7 linked regions of the Homo sapiens genome follow. The protein of the gene in region 6 purifies or fractionates together with the protein of the main gene of each other region. This does not show direct contact. Each region holds a gene or a part of one and is shown on either strand. Other genes may lie near its edges.

What was found.
Region 1: the proteins of PTPRO (region 6) and DNAJC3 purify together in Homo sapiens (affinity purification with mass spectrometry; 2 studies listed by BioGRID and IntAct, with this or other methods). This does not show direct contact.
Region 2: the proteins of PTPRO (region 6) and LMAN1 purify together in Homo sapiens (affinity purification with mass spectrometry, with the first as the bait; 2 studies listed by BioGRID). This does not show direct contact.
Region 3: the proteins of PTPRO (region 6) and PTK7 purify together in Homo sapiens (affinity purification with mass spectrometry; 2 studies listed by BioGRID and IntAct, with this or other methods). This does not show direct contact.
Region 4: the proteins of PTPRO (region 6) and TFRC purify together in Homo sapiens (affinity purification with mass spectrometry; 2 studies listed by BioGRID and IntAct, with this or other methods). This does not show direct contact.
Region 5: the proteins of PTPRO (region 6) and GTF2IRD1 purify together in Homo sapiens (affinity purification with mass spectrometry; one large-scale study listed by BioGRID and IntAct). This does not show direct contact.
Region 7: the proteins of PTPRO (region 6) and LNPEP purify together in Homo sapiens (affinity purification with mass spectrometry, with the first as the bait; one large-scale study listed by BioGRID). This does not show direct contact.

What each region holds. Positions count from the first base shown.
Region 1 is NC_000013.11:95,683,639-95,687,138, forward strand, and holds part of DNAJC3 (dnaJ homolog subfamily C member 3 precursor), read left to right. Parts: intron 1-3,500. UniProt on the Homo sapiens protein: Involved in the unfolded protein response (UPR) during endoplasmic reticulum (ER) stress.
Region 2 is NC_000018.10:59,328,266-59,331,765, reverse strand, and holds part of LMAN1 (protein ERGIC-53 precursor), read left to right. Parts: intron 1-226; coding exon 227-348; intron 349-636; coding exon 637-673; 3' UTR 674-3,500. UniProt on the Homo sapiens protein: Mannose-specific lectin. May recognize sugar residues of glycoproteins, glycolipids, or glycosylphosphatidyl inositol anchors and may be involved in the sorting or recycling of proteins, lipids, or both.
Region 3 is NC_000006.12:43,131,814-43,135,313, forward strand, and holds part of PTK7 (inactive tyrosine-protein kinase 7 isoform a precursor), read left to right. Parts: intron 1-202; coding exon 203-351; intron 352-607; coding exon 608-874; intron 875-3,500. UniProt on the Homo sapiens protein: Inactive tyrosine kinase involved in Wnt signaling pathway. Component of both the non-canonical (also known as the Wnt/planar cell polarity signaling) and the canonical Wnt signaling pathway.
Region 4 is NC_000003.12:196,072,091-196,075,590, reverse strand, and holds part of TFRC (transferrin receptor protein 1), read left to right. Parts: intron 1-230; coding exon 231-432; intron 433-1,465; coding exon 1,466-1,661; intron 1,662-2,712; exon of another isoform or gene 2,713-2,771; intron 2,772-3,438; coding exon 3,439-3,500. UniProt on the Homo sapiens protein: Cellular uptake of iron occurs via receptor-mediated endocytosis of ligand-occupied transferrin receptor into specialized endosomes. Endosomal acidification leads to iron release.
Region 5 is NC_000007.14:74,600,006-74,603,105, forward strand, and holds the end of GTF2IRD1 (general transcription factor II-I repeat domain-containing protein 1), read left to right. Parts: intron 1-1,038; coding exon 1,039-1,175; coding exon of another isoform or gene 1,176-1,292; exon of another isoform or gene 1,293-2,289; intron 2,290-2,359; coding exon 2,360-2,428; 3' UTR 2,429-2,600; downstream 2,601-3,100. UniProt on the Homo sapiens protein: May be a transcription regulator involved in cell-cycle progression and skeletal muscle differentiation. May repress GTF2I transcriptional functions, by preventing its nuclear residency, or by inhibiting its transcriptional activation.
Region 6 is NC_000012.12:15,595,008-15,598,507, forward strand, and holds the end of PTPRO (receptor-type tyrosine-protein phosphatase O isoform a precursor), read left to right. Parts: coding exon 1-34; 3' UTR 35-50; exon of another isoform or gene 51-1,082; 3' UTR 1,083-3,324; downstream 3,325-3,500.
Region 7 is NC_000005.10:97,026,580-97,030,079, forward strand, and holds part of LNPEP (leucyl-cystinyl aminopeptidase), read left to right. Parts: intron 1-37; coding exon 38-178; intron 179-1,153; coding exon 1,154-1,235; intron 1,236-1,822; coding exon 1,823-1,954; 3' UTR 1,955-3,500. UniProt on the Homo sapiens protein: Release of an N-terminal amino acid, cleaves before cysteine, leucine as well as other amino acids. Degrades peptide hormones such as oxytocin, vasopressin and angiotensin III, and plays a role in maintaining homeostasis during pregnancy.

The sequences.
Region 1 (3,500 bases), on a different chromosome or scaffold from region 6:
AGTTCCGGCTGGGCACTGTGGCTCACGCCTGTAATCCCAGCACTTTGGGAGGCCGAGGTGGATGGATCACGAGGTCAGGAGTTCAAGATCAGCCTGGGCAAGATGGTGAAACCCCGTCTCTACTAAAAATACAAAAAAAAAAAAACTTAGCCTGTTGTGGAGGTGGGCGCCTGAAATCCCAGCTACTTGGGAGGCTGAGGCAGAGAATTGCTTAAACCTGGGAGGCAGAGGATGAAGTGAGCCGAGATTGCACCACTGCACTCCAGCCTGGGTGACAGAGCAAAACTCCATCTCAAAAAAAAAAAAAAAAAAATTACCCAGTTCCGGGTATTTCTTTATAGCAATGTGAGAATGGACTAATACAGAAAATTGGTACTGGGAGTGGGGCATTGCTATAAAGATACCTGAAATTGTAGAAGGAAGCAACTTTGGAATGGGGTAATGGGCAGAGGTTGGGACAGTTTGGAGGACTCAGAGGAAGACAGGAAGAGGAACGAAAGTTTGAAACCTCCTAGAGACTTGTTGAATGGTTGTGACCAAAATGCTGATAGTGGTATAGACAGTGAAGTTCAGGCTGAGGAGGGCTCAGAATGACCGCAGATGAGGAACTTATTGGGAACTGGAGTAAAGGCCACTCTTGCTATGCTTTAGTAAAGAGACTGGTGGCATTGTACCCCTGGTCTATGGATCTGTGGAACTTTGAACTTGAGAGAGGTGATTTAGGGTATCTGGTGGAAGAAACTTCTAAGCAGCAAAGTGTTCAAGATGTGACCTGGCCTCTAGCAGCCAGTGCTCATATTCATGAACAAAGAAATGATGTAAAATTGGAACTTACATTTAAAAGGGAAACAGAGCAGAAGAGTTGGAAAATTTTCAGTCTGACCATGTGGTAGAAAAGAAAAACCCATTTATAGGGGAGTAATTCAAGCAGACTGCATGAATTTGCATAAGTAAAGAGGAGCCAAGTGCTGATAGCCAAGACAATGGGAAAAAGGGCTCCAAGGCATCTCAGCGACCTTTAAGGCAGCTCCTTCTATCATAGGCCCAGAGACCTAGGAGGGAAGAACAGTTTCCTGGGCCAGGGCCCTGCCAGCCTCAGGACACTGCTGCCTGCATCCTAGTTACTCCAGCTCCAGCCATGGCTGAAAGGGGCCCAGATATAGCTCAGGCCTTCAGACGGTGCCAGCCCAAACCCTTGGAAGATTCCACATGCTGTTAAGCCTGCAGGTGCTGAAAGCCAAGAATTGAGGCTTGGGAGCCTCAGCCTAGATTTCAGATATATGGAAAAGCCTGGATGTTCAGGCAGAAGGTTGCTGCAGGGGCAGAGCCCTCATGGAAAAATCTCTACTAGGGCAGTGCAGAGGGGAAATGTGGGGTTGGAGCCCCCAACAGAGTCCCCACTGGGGCACTGCCTAGTGGAGCTGTGAGAAAGACCACCATCTTTCAGACCCCAGAATGGTAGATCCGCTGACAGCTTGCACCATGCACCTGGAAAAGCTGCAGCCACTCATTGCCAGCCCTTGACAGCAGCCGCGTGGGCTGAGCCCTGCAAAGTCACAGGAGTGGCACTGCCCAAGGCCTTGGGAGCTCACCCCTTGCTGCAATATGCCCTGGATGTGAGACATGGAGTCAAAGGAGATTATTTTGGAGCTTTAAGATTTAATAACTGCCCTGCTGGGTTTTAGCACGTGCATGGGGCCCGTAGCCTTTTTCTTTTGGCCGGTTTTACCCTTTTGGAATGGGACTATTTACCCAATGCCTATAATCCCATTGTATCTTGGAAGTAATTAACTTGTTTTTGATTTTATAGGCTTATAGGTGGAAGGGACTTGGCTTGTCCCAGATGAGACTTTGGACTTTTGAGTTAATGCTGGAATGAGTTAAGACTTTGGGGGCTGTTGAGAAGGGATGATTGTATTTTGTAATGTGAGAACATGATATTTTGGAGGAGCTGGGGCGGAATGATATGGTTTGGATCTGTGCCCCACCCAAATCTTATGTTGAATTGTAATCCCTAATGTTGGAGTTGGGGCTTGGTGGTAGGTTTTTTGTTTTTTTTTAGAAATCTCCATATTGTTTTCCATAGTGGTTGAACTAATTTACATTGCTGCCACCCATATATGTGTTACAATTTCTTCACCTCCATGCTAACATCTATTTTTTTTTAAGCTTTTTAGTAATAGCCACTCAGACTTGTGTAAGATGATTGATATTTCATTGTGGTTTTAATTTGCATTTCTCTGATGATTAGTGATGAACATTTTTTCATGTTTGTTGGCTGCTTGTATGTCTTCTTTTGAGAAATGTCTCTTAATGTCCTTTGCCCACTTTTTTTTTTTTTGAGACAGAGTCTTGCTCTGTCGCCCAGGCTGGAATGCAGTGGCACGATCTTGGCTCACTGCAAGCTCCGCCTCCCAGGTTCACGCCATTCTCCTGCCTCAGCCTCCTAAGCAGCTGGGACTACAGGTGCCTGCCACCATGCCCGGCTAATTTTTTGTATTTTTAGTAGAGACAGGGTTTCACTGTGCTAGCCAGAATGGTCTTGATCTCCCGACCTTGTGAGCCACCCGCCTTGGCCTCCCAAAGTGCTGGGATTACAGGCGTGAGCCAGTGCGCCTGGCCCTTTGCCCACTTTTTAATGGGGTTCTTTGTTTTCTTCTTGTTGAGTTGTTTGAGTGTCTTGTAGATTCTGGATATTAGTCCTTTGTCGGAGGCATAATTTGCAAATGTTTTCTCTCATTCTGTAGTTTGTCTCTTTGCCCTGTTGATTATCTTTTGATGTGCAGAAGCTTTTTAGTTAAGTCCCATTTGTTTATTTTTGGTTTTGTTGCATTTGTGTTTGGGGTCTTCGTCATAAGTTGTTTGCCTAGGCCAATGTCCAAAATGTTTAATCTATCTTGAGGTAGTTTTTGTATATGCTGGGAGACAGAGATCCAGTTTCTTCTGCATATGGCTAGCCAATTTTCCCAGCACCATTTATTGAATTAGGGTGTCCTTTCCCTGTTGTTTATATTTGTCAGCTTTGTCAAAGATCAATCTGTTGGATGTAAGTATGTGGTTTTATTTCTGGGGTTCTCTATTGTAGTCCATTGATCTGTGTGCGTATTTTTGTACCAGTACCATGCCATTTTAGTTACTATAGCCTTGTAGTATAATTTGAAGTCAAGTAATGTGATGCCTCTGGATTTGTTCTTTTTGGTTAGGATTACTTTGGCTATTCATGCCCTTTTTTGGTGCTGTATGGACTTTAGAATTGTTTTTCCTAGTTCTCTGAAAAATGACATTGGTGATTTGATAGGAATTGTGTTGAATCTACAGATTACTATGGGCAGTATGGTTATTTTAATGATAGTCTCCAAATCCATGAGCCTGGGATGTTTTTGTGTTTATTTATGACATATATGATTTGTTTCATAAGTGTTTTGTAGTTCTCATGGAGATCTTTCACCTCCTTGGTCAGTGTTTTCCTAGGTATTTTATTTTTTTGCATATGGCTTTTG
Region 2 (3,500 bases), on a different chromosome or scaffold from region 6:
GCAGTGAGTTAGTGACTGGGTAGTAAAAAGGTGGAGGCCTTCCAGTGTCAACTACTCCTTCAAAAACAGTTGTCAGTAAAAGTTAAGGGGATAGAAGGTTTTCTGGGGGATGAAAAAATGAAAATACTTGTTTATATAGCAAACAGTTTTATAAAGATTTCACATTTATTTCTTTTTCCAAACTGCTATTTTGACTAACTGTAATAGAAAGTCATTTGCCTTACAGCCATCAAATGAAAAGCCGAAATGCCCAGAACTACCACCATTTCCATCATGTTTGTCTACGGTCCACTTCATTATATTTGTTGTGGTGCAAACTGTATTATTCATTGGTTATATCATGTATAGGTAAGTCTCTTGATAAAATGTGACCCAATATTTTTCTGCATCTGTTTAATTAGAAATATTCAACTAAGTTATCTATGTTCATAATACAATTTTCACCACCTATAAAATTAAGTTTATTGTGATTTCTGTTCATTTCAGTTCACATAAAGTGCACGTGTAGAATATATGTTTATCTTAATGCGTTGTATACTTCAAAAGGCATTGATATTTTAATTTTAAATAGTCCTGTTTCTTTCCAAAGTTAAGCGTATAGAACTTCTTTAAGTGTTTGTTTCTTTTTTTCATTAGGTCTCAGCAAGAAGCAGCTGCCAAAAAATTCTTTTGACTACCATTTTCCTGTGTACTTCATCTATTTGTGTACAAAATGATGTCGTTTTGAGGGAATTTAAGTATTTAAATTGCTTCATAGTCTAAATTATTAATTTTCTTAATAAAATAACTGTTTAAACATTGATTTGCAGTTAAGAATAAACCTTAAAGCAAAGACAACCACATTTTAATTTGTTCACAGTATGTAAATCTGTCTAAATTTCAGTGAATTTCTGGTCAGTATGATGCAGCCTCTGAGCAGAATATTGACCAGTAAGAGGGTAAATAAAGTGGGGGCAACCCCTGGATATGAATGTTACCCCCTAAGTCTCCAATATTGCAGGTTTCCCTGTATAACGTAAACACACTTGCCCTCATGCCTCCCAGAATATGAGGTCTAATTAAGAAGTCCCATCAGGTTTATTTTGTAACCAAAGTCTTTTTTAGAGGTCAGACTTCCTAATCAAAGGCCTGGGCCTGCAGTCCTTTCATCTTAATGCAACTTCCTTTGAAATCAAAGAATATTTTGTCTGAGAGCTTTAAGGATCTGGTAATAGACTTCAAAATGTTAAGTGAAATTTTTTTTTCCTCTATTTATCAATGATATATTTCACTTTTAAAGGAAATTTTAGAGGAAAATTAATAGCTGCTTTTTGCCTAAAAAACCTTGTGGGTGGAAACATTCCTCTGAGAATGGCTTTTATAGGTATTTTGCCTGGTAATGTATTCATTCATGATTGCCCATATTCTTGAATGTCTTCATTCCAATGGGGTCAGGTCAATATTATGAAAATAATTTTTATATTTATATTTGTAACTTAAGGAATTTATTTCTCCCTTTACTACAGCATGTAAATTCAGCTCAAATTGCATGATCTGAGGATTTAAATTCACAAAACCTGCCACTACATTCTGGTTTACATTAGTTACTTCATGCTGGCTGGGGTTAGTGACCATTTGCATACTCTTTTAAATCAAGGAGGCTGTAGTAGAAGCAGTTTTAAGATTCTTGAAGGCAAAATTTGAAAAACAGTGAATACTTCTAATTGTTTCCTTTTAGTGCCAGAACTAAGGACATTGTGAAGCACTTGTTAGTAAACTTAACCTTGAAATGTCAGACTGGAAGGAGTTTTTATAGTCTTTGTGCATACTTCTAGGTATTACAGAAACAGTCTGTAAATGACATTTTAAGATGCAAATTTAATTCTGTTCACAGCTGATTTATACTGATTTTTGCTGCCTTCAAAATACTCTTTTACTTCTTTTAGCTAAAATGGTTGTCTTTCATTTGCCATAGAATTCCAAACAATACTATCTTATAAAATAGTACTGTTGAATTATTCCAAGCCTCCCTAGGTTTGCTCTCAAATGTCATTTACAGATTGGGCTAACGACCTAAAATCTATATATAAAGACTTTCTGAAGAACTCTGTATTATAGCAATACCAAACGAGTGCTGTGTGTGCAAACAGTCTGGCGTTGCTTTTTATGTTGATATTTATCCTAGAACACTGAAAGAGAATATGCCAGTGATAACTCACTTTACTTCAGTCATTTCAACACAGAAAATGCTTCTCTAGCATTTTTCTTTTGTAGTGTTAACATTTTGAAATTCATGTTTCAGAGGCTTCATCATCACAGAATTTACTCTTGCTCCATGAAAAAAAATTAAATACCTTCAGAGGAATATTTAAGTTGTAAACTATGAAACTTGAGAAATCCTCTTGAGATAAAAGGCTGCCAAATCCAGTATTATAAAGTCCATGGTCATATGTGCCTGTGCATTAAAGGAATACCAGATCTATGCAGTATACATTTTTCAGGCTGAAATTCAAGGGGAATCATTCTGATTATTCTTACTACAAATGGAGATGGCTATTATGAAACAGCATGAGCATGAGCCTTTTATCTTTTATACTTAGTGATATACTTTGCTTGAAAATCACTCAGCAAAGTAGTTCACATGATGTGTATCATATTTGAAGTGTGGTTTTTCTCAAAATCATTGACTTTAAGGAGCTCATTTCTGAACAAAAAGGTTTGCTCTGTGGAAAAATCAATCACTGCCAGGATTCTTTCATTTCTGTACTATTTTGTATAATTGAATTTGTTCACTTCTCTCACACCAGCAAGTGTTTTACAGGTGCCTTGGATTAAAACAAAATTGATTTTAAAATTTTTATGTAAGTCATTGTGTCTATGATGCCACTTTTAAAAGGAAAATGCAATTGCGTAATGGCTTATATCCTTATTTAATGTACCTATTTGTGTTCTAATAATTGTTTGAATGTTTTATTCAGCTTAAAACTTTACCATGAAGTCATAAACAGTAAACAATGTTTTGTTATGTATTAAGGGGATATCAGTGTTTCTCAAAGTATGATCCATGGACCATCTGGGTCATGGCGCCTGGTTTCAGACAACCTGAATCAAATCTTAGGGGTGGGGCTTTGGGATGTCATTGTTCAATAGGCACCTCAGGAGATTCTGAGCACACCAATGTTTGAGAACCACTAAAATGAGGAGTGGGAAAAAAAAAATAGGTGTTTTGTTAATTTAGAGCTGAGCTGAGAAGATAATATATTTTTATTGTCAATGACATTAACAGATATGCACTGATTCTTTTATACCTACAATTTACTTAATGTTCCTTTTATTAAAACGCGTGGTTCATGAGCAACTACAGACTGAATCCAGATTATTACCTGTTGCTTTCAGTATTTTCGTGATGGCTTTTAATCTTATGAAATCATCTTGAGATCATTCATGGTCAAGCCATGAAAACTCCCATCTTCAAGCCTGCCTGCTAAAGCTTCTTTGCCTTCCTGATTGTGATTATGGTA
Region 3 (3,500 bases), on a different chromosome or scaffold from region 6:
GGAACACACACCTGCACGTGCACCTGAGCAAGTGTATGCAGGCACACACACCAGTCTGGAGTGTCAGCTTCCTTCTCTCTGCCCTGTTCCTGGTCGATTCCTTACTACATTTCCGACTTTGCAGGAAAGGGGTTCCCTTGCATTCCTTTCCAGAACTAGGCCTATTGGCCACTTTCTCCAAATTGCACTCTCCCCTCTGCAGCCCCCCACACCTCCGCAGAGCCACAGTGTTTGCCAACGGGTCTCTGCTGCTGACCCAGGTCCGGCCACGCAATGCAGGGATCTACCGCTGCATTGGCCAGGGGCAGAGGGGCCCACCCATCATCCTGGAAGCCACACTTCACCTAGCAGGTGAGTCTCTGGGTCTGGGGTGCTGATGTGGGAGGCTGCCTTTAACATTTTTGGCACATAGAGATTTAGGCTTCTGTTTTTACTCAGCCGCTTGGAGGGCAGGGGAAGAAAAGGATGCTGGGAGTAGGAAGAGGATATGCAGAGGGCTGCAGGGGAGGGTTTGTGCTGGGAAAGGGCCTAGGCTTGCTGTGGGAGAACATCATGTACCCTGAGACCCACAATAATTGGGCCATTCCTCCTACTTATGTCCTTGCAGAGATTGAAGACATGCCGCTATTTGAGCCACGGGTGTTTACAGCTGGCAGCGAGGAGCGTGTGACCTGCCTTCCCCCCAAGGGTCTGCCAGAGCCCAGCGTGTGGTGGGAGCACGCGGGAGTCCGGCTGCCCACCCATGGCAGGGTCTACCAGAAGGGCCACGAGCTGGTGTTGGCCAATATTGCTGAAAGTGATGCTGGTGTCTACACCTGCCACGCGGCCAACCTGGCTGGTCAGCGGAGACAGGATGTCAACATCACTGTGGCCAGTGAGCACCTTTGCCCTGAAGGTCAAGGAGAGGTGGAGGGGAACACAGGTCTGGGTGTGATGGACAGAGGCTTCCCTGGTACTCACCTGAGGTCCTCTCAGTTCTGGGCCCTGCAGGCTTGGGAATCAGTTCACTACTGGGAGTCGGTGTAGACAGTAGAGAGCCAGGCACAGGGGTTAGGGTGGGTGCTCCAGAGGAAATAGTGACAGCCCTCACAGAAAAATGGTCCTCTGGGTACAGAGGAAAGAGCAATAGACTAGGAATCTAGAGACCTGGGTCCCACTATGCTCCCAATGCACAGAGTGACGATGGTAGCAAATCACCCACCTTACTGGGGTTCAGTCTCCTCATCCATAAAATGGAGCCAGTAATCTACTACCTACCCCACAAGGTGGTTGGAAAGGTCAAATGAAGTAGATGAAAATGATTTTTCTTTTTTTCTTTTTTGGGAGGTAATAGTGGACAAAATTATAGGTGATTTTTAATTTGTTTTAGTTTGTTATGCTTTCCAAATTTCTTTACTAAACATATTACTTATGAAAAAAAAGAGGGGGAGAAAAGCAAGACATATGACTGAAAGTACACATGATAAACCCTTTATATCAGGCTGGGCGCGGTGGCTCATGCCTGTAATCCCAGCACTTTGGGAGGCCGAGCCGGGCGGATCACAAGGTCAGGAGTTGGAGACCAGCCTGACCAACATGGTGAAACCCCATCTCTACTAAAAATACAAAAATTAGCTGGGCGTGGTGGGGCACACCTGTAATCCCAGCTACTCAGGAGGCTGAGGGAGGAAAATTGCTTGAACCCAGGAGGCAGAGGTTGCAATGAGCTGAGATCGCACCGTTGCTCTTCAGCCCGGGCAACAGAGTGAGACTCCATCTCAAAACAAAACAAAACAAACCTTATATCCTCACTACAGGCATAGGGATTTATTTGTTTACTTATTTCTTTATACCATGCCTTGTTCCAAACCTTTTGTGGTAGTTTAAAAGGATACACAATAAAAATTACAATATGCACACAGAGACACACATACATACAAACTATTTTGCAATCTGCTTCTTCCACTTACCTTTATGTTACTATTATCTTTCCGAGTGGGTAACTTTGCAAAAAGATTTGAATATGAAAGTGGCTTTGTAAATGTGAAGTTGTGATGCTAGTATTCCCATTAGGATACTGAAATCTTAGAAGACATGCACCTATACTCAGGCCGTGATTTGGGTGGGAATCACAGCACATGTGTAACGAGTGCTCAGGACACTCACAGTGCAGGTGCAAAGGCAAGATGCACAGTCAAGCCTTCCTCCAGTTGAGGTCTGAGAATCACCTGCTTTCATTAGGGATACTTTTTCTTCTTTTGTTTGAGACGGAGTCTCACTCTGTCACCCAGGCTGGAGTGTAGTGGTGTGATCTTGGCTCACTGCAACCTGCGCCTCCCAGGTTCAAGTGATTCTCGTGCCTCAGCCTCCCAAGTAGCTGGGTTTAAAGGTGTGTGCCACCACACCTGGCTAATTTTTGTATTTTTAGTAGAGGCGATGTTTTACCATGTTGGCCAGGCTAGTCTCAAACTCTTGACCTCAAGTGATCCACCTGCCTCGGCCTCCTAAAGTGCTGGGATTATGGGTGTGAGCTGCCATGCCCGGCCTCATTAGGGATACTTTTTAAAACACAGGCCAGGCGTGGTGGTTCACACCTATAATCCCAGTGCTTTGGGAGGCCGAGATAGGAAGATCTCTTGAGCCCAGGAGTTTGAGACCAGGCTGGACAAAATAGTGAGACCTTGTGTCTACAGAAATTTAAAAAGTTAGCTGGGCGCGGTGGCTCACGCTTGTAATCCCAGCACTTTGGGAGGCCGAGGTGGGTGGATCACGAGGTCAGGAGTTCGAGATCAGCCTGACCAACATGGTGAAACCCCGTCTCTACTAAAAATACAAAAATTAGCTGGGCATGTTGGCACTCACCTGTAATCCCAGCTACTTGGGAGGCTGGGGCAGGAGAATTGCTTGAATCCAGGAGGCAGAGGTTGCAGTGAGTCGAGATCGTGCCATTGCACTCCAGCCTGGGTGACAGAGCGAGACTTTGTCTCAGGAAAAAAAAAAAAAAAAATTTAGCCAGGTATGGTGATGCACACCTATAATCCCAACTATTTGGGAGGCTGAGGCTGGAGGATCATTTGAGCTCGGGAGCTGGAGGTTCCAGTGAGCTATGATCACACTACTGTACTGGAGCCTGGATGACAGCAAGACCCTGTCTCCAAAAAAATGTCTAAGACATTGCTGGAGCCTTGAAAAAAAGAAAAAAAATGCAGAATTCGGGGCCCCACTCCACAGCTTCCAACCCAGGCTCTAGGGGTGGGACCCAGGTAGATGTGTATTTAACAAGTGCTCTGGGTGATACTTCATGTGTGTTCAAGTTGGGGAACTCTGGCTTTGATCAGTCATTCCACAGATGCTGACTGAGGCTGACACTGAGCCATGCCAGTGTCCCTTGCTGTGCTCTGAGAAGGAGGCCTGTGGCATTTGAGAGTGTGTGATGCAAACAGGGCCAGATCAGGTGCTGGGTGTTAGAGGGTAGAGCCCAGAAGACGGAGAGCTCTGGGAATGCATTCAGTCAACAGAGA
Region 4 (3,500 bases), on a different chromosome or scaffold from region 6:
CCTTGTCTCAAAAAAAAAAAAAAATTTACAAAAAGGGAGAGACTGACTGAGAAGACCAGTGTGAACTAGCCCTTGACTGGGCCCAGGGAAGAATGTTGGTTTGAAAGGAGAACACCCTAAGGAATATATAGCAAGTTATAGTAATGGCCCAATAACAAGCATATACCTAAACGAGCTTTTCCTAAACATTCCCGTGCCTGTTCTTCATCATGCCTTTTTCCGCAACACAGTTTGGTGGAGAACCATTGTCATATACCCGGTTCAGCCTGGCTCGGCAAGTAGATGGCGATAACAGTCATGTGGAGATGAAACTTGCTGTAGATGAAGAAGAAAATGCTGACAATAACACAAAGGCCAATGTCACAAAACCAAAAAGGTGTAGTGGAAGTATCTGCTATGGGACTATTGCTGTGATCGTCTTTTTCTTGATTGGTGAGAATGACCATTCCAAACTTCAATGTTTTCTATAACCAACTCTGGGAAGTCTGTTATGTCAGCTCAGCATATAGTTATTTTGTACCTTATTTTTTTTTTTTTTTTTTTTGGAGACAGAGGCTTACTCTCTTGCCTAGGCTAGAGTGCAGTGGCACCATGTTGGCTCACTGCAACCTCAGCCTCCCAGGTTTAAGCGATTCTCTGCCTTAGCCTCCTGAGTAGCTGGGACTATAGGCGCCCACGACCACACCTGGCTAATTTTTTTTTTTTTTTTTTTGAGTTGGAGTCTCACTCTGTGGCTCAGGCTGGAGTGCAGTGGCGTGATTTCGGCTCACTGCAATCTCCGCCTCCCAGGTTCAAGCGATTCTTCTGCCTCAGCCTCCTGAGGAGCTGGGACTACAGGCGTGCACCACCACACCTGGCTAATTTTTGTATTTTTAGTAGAGACGGGGTTTCACCATGTTGGTCAGGCTGGTCTCTAACTCCTGACCTCGTGATCTGCCCGCCTCAGCCTCCCAGAGTGCTGGGATTACAGGCATGAGCCACTTTCCCGTCCACTTTATGCCTTTTTAAGTGCCACTAGGAAGACAATCATGAGTAGATTCTATACCTGTCATTGAATTTAATCTGGTTGGAAAGAGAGACCCATGAATTATTTCAATACGACGTGCAAGTGTTTTCTTTTTATTTATGTATTTTTTTGTTTGCTCCCACTCCACCAGGAAGCAAATGCTACGCTAGAAAATATCCGCAGGACACTGGCGGTGCAGCAGCTCAGTCTCATGTTTCAAGGGGGTCTTTTGGAAAAAACTACCTATGTTTTGAATAGGTAGCTATTTGAAATAAAGCTAGTATATAATTTATTAAGTGGTTTAAAGTATACAAAACTGAGATGCATTATATACTTTAAAACTACTTAGAATTTGATGAAAACCAGTATTTTCAAGGCTTACCTGAAAATATTAACAGATTAACAGGGATAGATTACAAATGAAATTCTGAGTTCAGCTCTGGAACTTTGTCTCTTTAGGATTTATGATTGGCTACTTGGGCTATTGTAAAGGGGTAGAACCAAAAACTGAGTGTGAGAGACTGGCAGGAACCGAGTCTCCAGTGAGGGAGGAGCCAGGAGAGGACTTCCCTGCAGCACGTCGCTTATATTGGGATGACCTGAAGAGAAAGTTGTCGGAGAAACTGGACAGCACAGACTTCACCGGCACCATCAAGTGAGTGCCAGCTGCTGTGCAAGTATCTAGACAAGTAATTCAAGAATTATGATAGGCCACGGGGAAACAATAATGGTGACACTGTGGGGAATGGCTTGTTAGAGAAGACAAGACTTGTCATGTTTAGCTAAAGAGGGGAAGGGGCCTGTAAAAAACTGAAACTATACTGGTAGGGGAAAAGGTAGAACTTCTCTGGGGAGTCTCCTTTTTCTTAAAAAATTAATAGGCCCTTGATGTTTTCCCCATCTTTGTAGCTTATTGCTTGCTGTCATTCTCTGGCTCTGATTTTTCTTCTTAACCTCTTGTAACGTTGTACTAAGCTCTGCTTTGCTGACAAGGACATCAGTAGCTTTTCTCTGTTTTAGGAAGCAACACATGCCAGAAGTAGCCTTTTTCATCTCCTTGATCATGGGTAACTGCCTGCCTTAAGTCTCTAGTGCTTCTTAATTTCTGTGATACTCACCCATTAACCCCTAGGCCAGTCAGTATCCAGAGACAATGTCTCCCTCTGGTGGAGGCTGGAATACGGTGGCGTGCTCTCATCTCACCGCAGCTTCATCCCCCTACCATAGCCTCCTGAGTAGCTGGGACTATAAGCACGCAGCACCACACCCAGCTAATTTTTTTTTTTTTTTTTTTAAGAGATGGAGTCTCACCATGTCTCCCAGGCCGGTCTGTTCTTAGATTTTTATTTATTTACTTATTTATTTTGAGATGGAGTCTTACGTGTTGCCCAGGCTGGAGTGCAGTGGCACGATTTCAGCTCAGTGCAACCTCTGTCTCCCAGGTTTAAGCAATTCTCCTACCTCAGTCTCCTGAGTAGCTGAGATCACAGGCTTGTACCACCATGCTCTGCTAATTTTTGTGGGTTTTTTTTTTTTTTTTTTTTTTTTGCAGAAACGGGATTTCACCATGTTGGCCAGGCTGGTGTCTAACTCCTGACCTCAGATGATCCTCCTGTCTTGGCTCCCAAAGTGCTGGAATTACAGGATGAGGCACTGCACCTGGCCAAATTTCTATTTTATATTTATTTATTTATTTTATTTGTAATGGGCTTTCTGGCAAAAACTAGAAAGCATGCTAGACAAATTCTAAAAGAGCTGTAACACTTGTCCATAGAGTTTTACTATCTTTGCACATACATGCCTCTGTGCAAAGAATAAATTTATCTTTTCCTTTTTGCAAGCTTCCTACACTTACAGTGGTACTATAATTCTTTAGTCTTAAGTTATGGCATTTTCTACTTCATCTAGTTGATGCTTTTGTGTTTATTTACTGTACACCAGACCTTATGGTTAAAGTGAGAGTATAGTCCACCCCACAAAAATGTAAGAACTAATATGCTGAGTAAATAGAAAGAAGTATGGGAGATCGGACCAAGGAGCAGTTCTGCTTCAGGGTATTCAGATGCTTCACAAGTAGGTGAGAATTGAAACTATGCACTCTGTTCAGCACAGTATTACTATCTTAGATTTTATAGTAGATCTGGAAGCTACTCATTTCCCCTAAAACTATCCTAAGCAGATACATTGTGTTATGATGAGGCTCTTGAAGGAGTGCTTTGTAGTGGGTAAAGAAGCTTTGAAGTTACAAGATTTGGGGCAAAATTTTTTTTCTTTTGTGATATTCTGGTCAGTCTAGAAGTTTTGGGTCACAGTTCATTTATCTGAACTATGAGGGATAATATTTTGCTTTCAAAACAATTTGTTTAATCCTTGACTTAAATGTTTATTTTAAAGTAAACTTAAGTTCATTTAAAAGGCATTTTCTCCTCCAGGCTGCTGAATGAAAATTCATATGTCCCTCGTGAGGCTGGATCTCAAAAAGATGAAAATCTTG
Region 5 (3,100 bases), on a different chromosome or scaffold from region 6:
GGGTGCTCGTGAGTGAAATGTGAATAGGATCTTGGAGGGTTGCTGGGAGGATCCCAGCAGACAATGTGCAAAGCATTTAGCACAGTGCCCAGCACCCAGAAAATACTCAGAAACTGAGAATGCGATTAATATTGTTGCCATGAGCCAGGCACGGTGGCTCATGCCTGTAATCTCAGCATTTAGGGAAGCTGAGGCAGGAGGATTGCTTGAGGTTGGGAATTGGAGACCAGCCTGGGCAACATAATGATGCAGAAATACAAAAAGTTAGCCAGGCATGGTGGCGCGCACGTATAGTCCCAGCTACTCGGGAACCTGAGGTGGGAGGATTGCTTGAGCCCAGGACTTGGAAGCTGCAGTGAGCTACGATTGCACCATGGCACTCCAGCCTGGGCAACAGAGTGAGACCCTAAAAAACAATATAGGCCAGGTTCGATGGCTCATGCCTATAATCCCAGCACTTTGGGAGGCCGAGGTGGATGGATCACTTGAGGTCAGGAGTTCAAGAGCTGCCTGCCCAACACGGTGAAACCCCATCTCTACTCAAAATACAAAAAAATTAGCTGGACGTGGTGGCAGACACCTATAACCCCAGCTACTTGGGAGGCTCAGGCACTAGAATCGCTTGAACCCAGAAGGCAAAGGTTGCAGTGAGCCAAGATCGCGCCACTGGACTCCAGGCTGGGTGACAGAGCGAGACTCCATCTCAAAAAACCAGAAAGAGAGAGGACCTAGGGCCTAAGGGGTGAGCTTGCTGGGGAGGAGGAGGGACACATGGGGATGAGGATACGGTGTTAGCAAAGGCAGGCAGGCCAGCAAGAGCAGGAGGCCGGGGAGAGTGGGCCCTCGGGCTTGCTTTGGGAAGGAGGCTGGACATGTGGGCTCTGGACAGGTGGGCCCTGACCCCCAGGGGATCAGGAGCCTGAAATCCTGAAAGGGGGACTCGAAACCTTAAGACAGAGCACTTTTCCAGGGAGCTCAGGAGGCTGAGACAGAAAAGCCTCAGCTTCCAGTGTCAACAGCCTTTTCCCCTCCTTCCAGCCAAAGACAGCAGCATTCCCAAGCGCAAGAGAAAGCGGGTCTCGGAAGGAAATTCCGTCTCCTCTTCCTCCTCGTCTTCCTCTTCCTCGTCCTCTAACCCGGATTCAGTGGCATCGGCCAACCAGATCTCACTCGTGGTAAAGTTGCACCGATTTGGACTCCGGCACTCATCTCTGTGGCCCTCACCCCTCTGTCTGGCAGGGCCGTCTACTCTGGGATGTGGGCCCAGGGGACGGGGAGGCACTGGGCTTTGAGTGGGGACCTTCCGGCCTCGGGGGTTATAGATGCATCCACCTGTCTCACCCAAGAGGTAGCCCATCCTTCTCGTGGGGTACTCACAGGCACTCAGGCAGGAATTCACATCCTCGCTGGGCAGATGGGCCGGCTGAGGTCCACCTGCCCACACCCTTCAGCCGCACCAGAGCTGGAGACATGAAAAGACATGGCTGGCGGGTGCAGTGGCTCACGCCTGTAATCCCAGCACTTTGGCAGGTCAAGTCGGGTGGATCACCTGAGGTCAGGAGTTTGAGACCAGGCTGACCAACACGGGGAAACCCCATCTCTACTAAAAATACAAAATTAGCCGGGCAAAGTGGGGCATAGTGGCTCATGCCTGTAATCCCAGCTACTTGGAAGGCTGAGATAGGAGAATCGCTTGAACCTGGGAGGCAGAGGTTGCAATGAGCCGAGGTCGCGCCATTGCACTGCAGCCTGGGCAACAAGAGTGAAACACTGTCTCAGAAAAAAAAATTAGCCAGGCATGGTGGCACGTGCCTGTGGTCGCAGCTACTTGGGAGGCTGGGGCAGGAGGATCATTTGAGCCCAAGGGGATTGAGGCTGCAGTGAGCCAAGATCGTCCCATTGCACTCCAGCCTGGGCAAGAGAACGAGACTCCATCTCAAAAATAAATAAATAGGCTGGGTGTGGTGGCTCACGCCTGTAATCCTAGCACTTTGGGAGGCCGAGGCAGGCGGATCACTTGAGGCTCAGGAGTTCAAGACCAGCCTGGCCAACATGGCAAAACCCCGTCTCTACTAAAAATAGAAAAATTAGCCGGGCATGGTGGCGGGCGCCTATAATCCCAGCTACTCGGGAGGCTGAGGCAGGAGACTCGCTTGAACCCGCGGGGCCAAGGTTGCAGTGAGCCGAGATTGCATCACTGCACTCCAGCCTGGGCAGAAGAGTGAAACTCCATCTCAAAAAAATAAAAAATATAAATAAATAGCCTCTGAGAAAGCTCTTCCAAAAGCAGAACTAAGCATTTTGGGTTTGTTCCGCATCACCTGGAGTCCTAATCCAGTCCCTTTGTCCCTCTCTCTAGCAATGGCCAATGTACATGGTGGACTATGCCGGCCTGAACGTGCAGCTCCCGGGACCTCTTAATTACTAGACCTCAGTACTGAATCAGGACCTCACTCAGAAAGACTAAAGGAAATGTAATTTATGTACAAAATGTATATTCGGATATGTATCGATGCCTTTTAGTTTTTCCAATGATTTTTACACTATATTCCTGCCACCAAGGCCTTTTTAAATAAGTAAAAAAAGAAAAAAAAAAAAAAGAGTGTTGCCTTTACTTTTACGGTCACTGTTTCATGTTCTCTTTTGGATCGTGGCCGCAGCTGTCACTGGGGACAGGGTCAGGAAACGCAGCTCAGGTGGCCTGCCAAGGCCCTCCTTCTTCATCACAGCAGAGGTAGTGTCCAGGAAGACCCCAGAGCTCTCTGTGCTCCTGGGAGCACGTGACCTCAAGAAGAAAAGCCACGGAAGGAAAATGTGCCACGGGGCCGGGCGTGGTGGCTCATGCCTGGAATCCCAGCACTTTGGGATGTCGAGGTGGGTGGATTGCTTGAGGTCAGGAGTTCGACCTCATTGGCCTGTAATACCGATGCTTTGGGAGGCCAAGGTGGGAGGATTGCTTGAGACCAGGAGTTTGAGATGAGCCTAGGCAACATAGTAGAACCCTTTCTCTAGAAAATGTTAAATGTGGCTTACACCTGTAATCCCAGCACTCTGGGAGGCTGAGGCGGGTGAATCACCTGAGGTCAGGAGTTTGAGACTA
Region 6 (3,500 bases):
TGATGTCATATACGAGAATGTTAGCAAGTCCTAGTTCAGAATCCGGAGCAGTAAGTGGAGAAGAGCTCTCCACGAGTGCTCAGTCTTAGAACTATTAGAGGGGGATGTGATGGATGGGACAAAAGACAGCAGTAGCCATTTGTATTGACTCTGACTTCACATGAGTATTTCTTCCCAGCTCCTGGCCTCACATGGGTGGTCACAGGGAGAAACAAGTACTGTAGCAGATCTTTGAGTTTCAATGCACCTTGGTTGGTGTTGGCAACAAACAGGAGCTTCTGCACATCATGATGACTTTACCTCCATTCCCTCTACCCAGAACCCTAAATTATTCTGTTATTGGATCTGTGCCTGTAATATCAGGATACTACCATCCAAATCTATCTAGATATCTTGTGCAAATATTTTATTGATTACAAGGGCTGTATACGGGGTTACAAAAAGACATGAGCTGGATTGGACACTCCTAAAACCAAAAACAACAGTGACAATAGAGTCTCAGGATAGCAGAGTCTGAAAATACCTTGGTCTCCCCCATTATGTGAGCCCTTACTTGAGAGCTTCATGAAGACACTTGTAACATATTCAACGTCCTGTACTCCAGTTTTGACTACGAGATCAGATTTTGGAGGTGTAAGTAAACTTGGCTGAGGTAACAGTAATCTGCCCATTTAGTTCAGTAAACAGACTGTAGAGTGTCTGACTATACTGGGGGAAGAGGAGCCAATGACAGGGTAGGGAGATGACAGTGGTGCATGATGGGAGAATCATGAAAGTCTGGGAAGCATATGGACCAGTGGGAAGGATAGGATTAGCACTGCACCTCTACATCCATCAAGAGAGACAGAGCGCACAATGGAGCAGGAAGGATAAAAAATAAAGAAAGACAGAGAGAAACAAATTTGCTGGGAGAGGGAAAGACATTCAGACCCACAGAAAGGAGGCAGCACACAGAGAAAGATGCACAGATCAACCCACATCTGCATGGGTTGTGAGACTGAGCATAGTGAGAGCAGTGGTGGAGCAATAGAAGATTGCTGTGACACCAGGCTGCTTACTGTCTTTCTTTGTCTCATTCACAGGAGAGGACATGATGTGCGCCCATCCTCCCTTGCTTCCAGATTGTTTTAGTGGGCCCTGATGGTCATTTTTCTAAACAGAGGCCCTGCTTTGTAATATGTGGCCAAGGAGATAATTTATCTCACAGAAGCACCGGGAAGACTTAGCCTTAAAGAGCCTACAGTGTCCTTTTGGACTCTTTCACTTCGGGACATTTAATAATGGACCAAATTCAACAGAACACCAGGAAGGTCAAGACGCTCTCCAAAGGGCAGGAAGTACAGCACTTCCGAAGAGTTTAGTTGGCCCTTTGCTGGTTGGGCTGAGTTTTTTATTTTTAAGTGTTTGTTTTTCAGTGCAATAATTTTTGTGTGTGTGTGATTCTTATCAGAAAGTTGAATTGTTTTCTGCCTACACCGTTCATCAGCCCCATAACCCAGGAAGGAACAGGCATTGTTAGCATCAGATTATACCTCATTATTAAAAGGAGGCATGGCCACACATGAAGAAATGGTCATTCTACTTCAAAGAAATTGAGCCAGCACTATCTGTACTCCAACATTACCGGATCTGGATTGGGGAGGTTGGTCAGGGAAGAGAGGGGTTCTACCCACAGATCAACTGTGTAATCTTTTACTATTCAAGCTATAATTCAGCTTCAAAGTAGAGTAGAAAAAAAATTGTCTTAACTGTTCTAGTTCTTGATGGTTTTCTTCCTTATTAACAGTTGGTGTTTCTTCCTTGGCCCTTTTGGACTAATGTTACTGTCCAAGTTCTTTCTCAAGAAACCACATCTGGTTCAGAAGAGTGTCAAGTTGGACTCTTTGAACTCTGTTGCTGTCTGAGCAATCGTGGTGCCTAGACTTTGCATTCCTTGTTCTGTTGACCTGCATACATGTGAGAGCTATTTCTTTAAGAACTATATAGGCTGTGAAAACGCACTTTCTTTCCCCCAAAGAGCTGGGAATTTATGAAGTTATGGCAATGAACTGCAGCATGCTGGGACAATTATTTGACTACTTTTTTTTGTAATATTGTCAAATGTCTCTATGGATTCTGACAGAGATTTCTTTTTGTTTTGTTATTCTTTTGGTTGTCAGTTTCATTTTAACGAGTGTAACTAGTAACATTTTATTCTTTGGATTTTGTATAATTACAGTACATGATTGTGTATTGTGACATGAATGCTGTCAAAATGACATTGATGGCATTGTGAAGCCTGTTACTTTGTGTCACTTCCTGATAAATAAGAGGTGATGACATGGATATACAACAGAAAACACTTTGAGTTGAAAGTAAACACAAGCTGGCTGCTTCCCTGTGGCAACTGTGGCTATTGTGAGCCTCCGTGTGTGTGCTTCCAGGAGGCTTTGCTCCTCTTCATGCACCCGACACTGCCCCTTCCCTGGCTTCCCTCCATCCCTGATCATCTTCATGAAGCCACAGATATAAGATCAGCTTAATATTTTATCAGTGACCTTAGTGTTGGTGAAGGATGCCAAATGAACAGCTCTGCACCCCACCGTCTCTTGTCACTGAAAAGGCTTGGCCATGGCAGACCTTGGCAGAGTTTCTTGCAAGATCTGGCCAGTGAGTCTCAGTTTCACCTTGCAGGGTGAATGGCAGAGGATGCCCATACCCTGCAGGTTAACAGCTTGGGCTCCTCAGGGGTTGTCAGTTCCTACTCACCTCCCTGCTACCACCTCCTCCTCTTCTTCTCACCCCCGACTCCTTTATTTCCCTTTTTGGACATTTTAATAATGTGTCGCACCATTCTCAGGAACAAACATGGTTAATGAAAGGTGGCAAAGGGATGTGTGACATTCTTAGATTTTCACACATGGGCAGTCAGGAGTGAAATGTGCAACCTTGGAAGAGCTGATACAATGTATGGTAAGCTGAAGTACGTTTCCAACACTGCTGCTCAGAGCATACAGAAGTTTTGCATCCTGGAACATTGCTTCCCATGAAACAAAGCACTTCATAAATATTTTATGTTTTTCTTGAGCACCCTTTCAAGGTAGGGATCAAATAGTGCCAGATCAATTTTCCCAAAAGGAAAGAGGAAGTATCCAGAGTTTAGACTGAAGGCTTAGAGTCAAAACTACAGGAAGGTCACACTGTTCTCTGGAACACTGTTGCTCTTCAGTTTGTAGAGTTTATGATGGAAAAGGCATCAGTCTGTCAAAAGACTTGTTTAATCCTGATAATGACTTTGGAATTATCTCTCCTGGGTCTCAGTTAATAAACTGAAGAATGACCTAATCATAACTCCATATCTTGCAACAGGTATAAGAAGTATCAGATACGATAATTGACCCAAAGGTGCTTTGTGTCTTGTTCTCTCATGTATGTTCCGTAAGGCTACTCTAACCAGTTCTGTTTCCACACCAGGACCCAACTTTAAGCATTCAGAAGGGAGGCTTCCAGAGCCTCTGTAT
Region 7 (3,500 bases), on a different chromosome or scaffold from region 6:
TAATAATTTTGGAGGCTAAATCTGCTTTGCTCTTCAGGTTAATGAAAAGTAGCCTGAATGGAGATAACTTCCGAACACAGAAGCTGTCTTTTATCATTAGAACAGTGGGTCGACATTTTCCTGGACACTTACTGGCATGGGATTTTGTCAAAGAGAACTGGAATAAGCTTGTACAGAAGTAAGTTTCTCAGAGAATTATTAACTTTTAGTATTCTCAAGTTGTGCATTTGAAAAAAGCTCCCAGTGTTTTGGCTCACAGAAGTTAGGATTTGCTGTGAGAGGAAAAATACTTCCATGACAGTTTAACTGAAACATCCGGAAATTTTCACATTTGTTAACATAATTCCATAGCATGAATCATTTAACAGTAGCATTCCATCTAAGTTCTAATTAAGCCTAGCCTTGCTTGGCACCAGGTTACTTAGCTCAGCGTGGCTACAGACTATTTCATAGCAACCATTTAGCTATGCATATTGAAAAATACCTCTGTATGGCCGGGCGCGGTGGCTCACACCTTTAATCCCAGCACTTTGGGAGGCCGAGATGGGCGGATCACGAGGTCAGGAGATCGAGACCATCCTGGCTAACACGGTGAAACCCCATTTCCACTAAAAATACCAAAAATTAGCCGGGCATGGTGGCGGGTGCCTGTAGTCCCAGCTACTTGGGAGGCTGAGGCAAGAGAATGGTGTGAATCTGGGAGGCAGAACTTGCAGTGAGCCGAGATTGTGCCACTGCACTCCAGCCTAGGCAACAGGGCGAGACTCCGTCTCAAAAAAAAAAAACAAAAAGGAAAATACCTCTGCATTGCCAAGGCATCAGTTAAGAACTCACATTCAGCTAGATGCAGATGTAGGTTTTTTGCTTCTTTCTCTCTTTTAAATCAATAATGGCATTTCTGGGTGTACAGTGTGATCTTCGACAATGTTAAGCGGATTAATTGTCTGCATGTTCTGAACTCTTCCCTTTTTCTGCCCACCTTTCCTTCCCACCGACAATAAGTATGCATAGGGCTACCCCGGTTTCCTCAGTTGCAGTTCCGGGAGGAGGATTCCACTCTGGCTTTGGCATTAAAGACTTTTCCTTGCACTCAGGAACAACGCTTTACCAGCAGCTGCCTAATCTTTTTGCTCTTGTTTTTGTGTTTCTTCAGGTTCCCTCTGGGGTCCTATACCATACAAAATATTGTTGCTGGATCAACTTACCTGTTTTCAACAAAGACACATTTATCTGAGGTTGGTTTTATAAAATGATAATACAGAGACTGGGCAACCCTCCGCACACCCGGACCAGGCTGCTCAGTTTTAGTGAGATGGTGGATTTTCATGCTAATTCCTTCTCTTATCTCTGTCTTCCTTTATCAGTACTAATGATTCTGCATTGTGATTACTTCTAGAGGGTGGCATATATGATAATGAGGAAAAAATCTGATTCCATTCTCTTCCCTTGTCTCCCTAATACAAATAATTTAAGTGGTCATAAAATTGTTTGGAAGAATTGCATTCTTGGGGTGAATTCATAGCACCAAGCCTTTGGACTCTACTTTATTTATTGTTACTTAAACATCTCCTTGGTTCCATTTTAAGTTAGAAAAATGTATCTGTGTGGGAGTAAAAAGATTTCCTTTTTAAAATCATTTCAGATATCACCATACTTGATTGGGAACTCCATGTAGATACCTTGAATATTAAAGTACTTCTTTCTACTGCTTTCAAGATAGCAGCACAGCCATCACTAAGTTAAAGCTTATTTTAAAAGCTGGGGTTACCTGAGGTTTATCGTCCTTTTCTTCTTTTGAAATTCTTCTGTGTGAAACTTACAGGTTCAGGCATTCTTTGAAAATCAGTCAGAGGCAACCTTCCGGCTTCGTTGTGTCCAGGAGGCTTTGGAAGTCATTCAGTTGAATATCCAGTGGATGGAGAAGAACCTCAAAAGTCTCACATGGTGGCTGTAGCATGCACAACCGCACCTCATTTTGTTGCCCATTCAGAGAGCTTGTAAGCTTGGGCTCTGCCGCTTTTGCAAAAGCCAAGGTAAAGCCAGGATCGCTGCCAAGTTGTTTGCACTCTTTGGAGTTCTAGTTAGCTCAGGGCCTGACTGTATTTTTCATCCATCTTTTCTGAAGTGTCTTTGGGCAGTATGTAGTTATTTATTACAAAATTATATTCACCTAAATGCCAACCATCTACAAAAACAATGAGTAATTTTTCTACTTTGAAGATACACAGATGGGGACAAAAACCCTGTTTTGGAATTCTGTTCTATTCCTCAGTATCCAGAAAGTTACTGACACAGTAAAACAAGGAAAGTTCTACCCTAAGAGCCGCCATCACTTCAGGCCGCTGGTTTGTCAGCCATCTGTTGCTTCTTATTGATAGATGGCATTGGAATGTGGTACAAAGTTAGCTCTGAAGAATATGGTAACGAAGACAATAAAGCATGCACTGTAAGAACTGACCTCAGGTGTGCAGATCTACTTTGATTTGGGGTTTTGATTAATTCTTTATTTTTCTGAAAAAAAGTTTAAATAATGTCTGTAACTATTGTGTTTTTTTCCTGCCGAATAGCCAGGTGCTACAGATTTTTAAAATTTTTGTTGTATTGAAAAGCTAAACAAGGCCAAAAGGTTAAATTTTTTGAATATTTAAGACTTTCTTTTTCATCTTTTATAGCGTTACCATAGGAAACTGTTCCAAACTGAGTTAGCTTTAATTATAATTATTTTATTCATAAATGGTGATAGTCCCCAGATCTGTACACCTTTATCACTCCCTGCCGTAGATATACTTTAGGTTAGTATTTCTACATTCGTGGCAAGCATTTTGGTAACACCAGTGGTTTTCATTGTGACTTTTATCACTATCACTAAGAATGCAATTTAAGTTGCCTTTTGGCATCATAGATCATAGAAACTTTCTCTCTGAATCATACCCATGTGTGAATTTTCATTTTATATGATAGTGTAGCATATTAGAAGCATATTTTAAAACAGAGCCTTTGAGAAATTGAAAAACAATTATTTGAAGTTCACCATAGTACCTTAAAGGAACAAAGAGAATGTGGGATAGGAGTAACTTGAATTCGTGTTTAGTATGGTGGGCTTTGAATTTTTTTCACTATCAAAAATAGTGCTTTTGTTTAGTTAAAAATTGTAGTTTTTCTTTTTTTGTGTGTCCAAACTAACATAAAAGGAGTGGTCAAAGAAGGAAAGAAGAAAAATGAGGGAGGATGTCCGAAACTGTATGGCATTTTACTCCTTCTGAAAGAGAAATACTGTACTTGAATTTTTGAGCTATGCAGACTTATACCTAGATTGTTGTGTTTCTTTGATTCTTAGGAGAAAAGCTTTCTTCCTAATAATTCTTGAGAACTTTATATTTTGTTTGAAAACAGTTTCTATGTACATAAAAAGGGTATTTACCCATTTGTGAGCACTTAAAACACTCCACAGAGTCAGACAGTGGGAAAGGTCACCCTTTTTTTATTCGGCAGGTATCAAG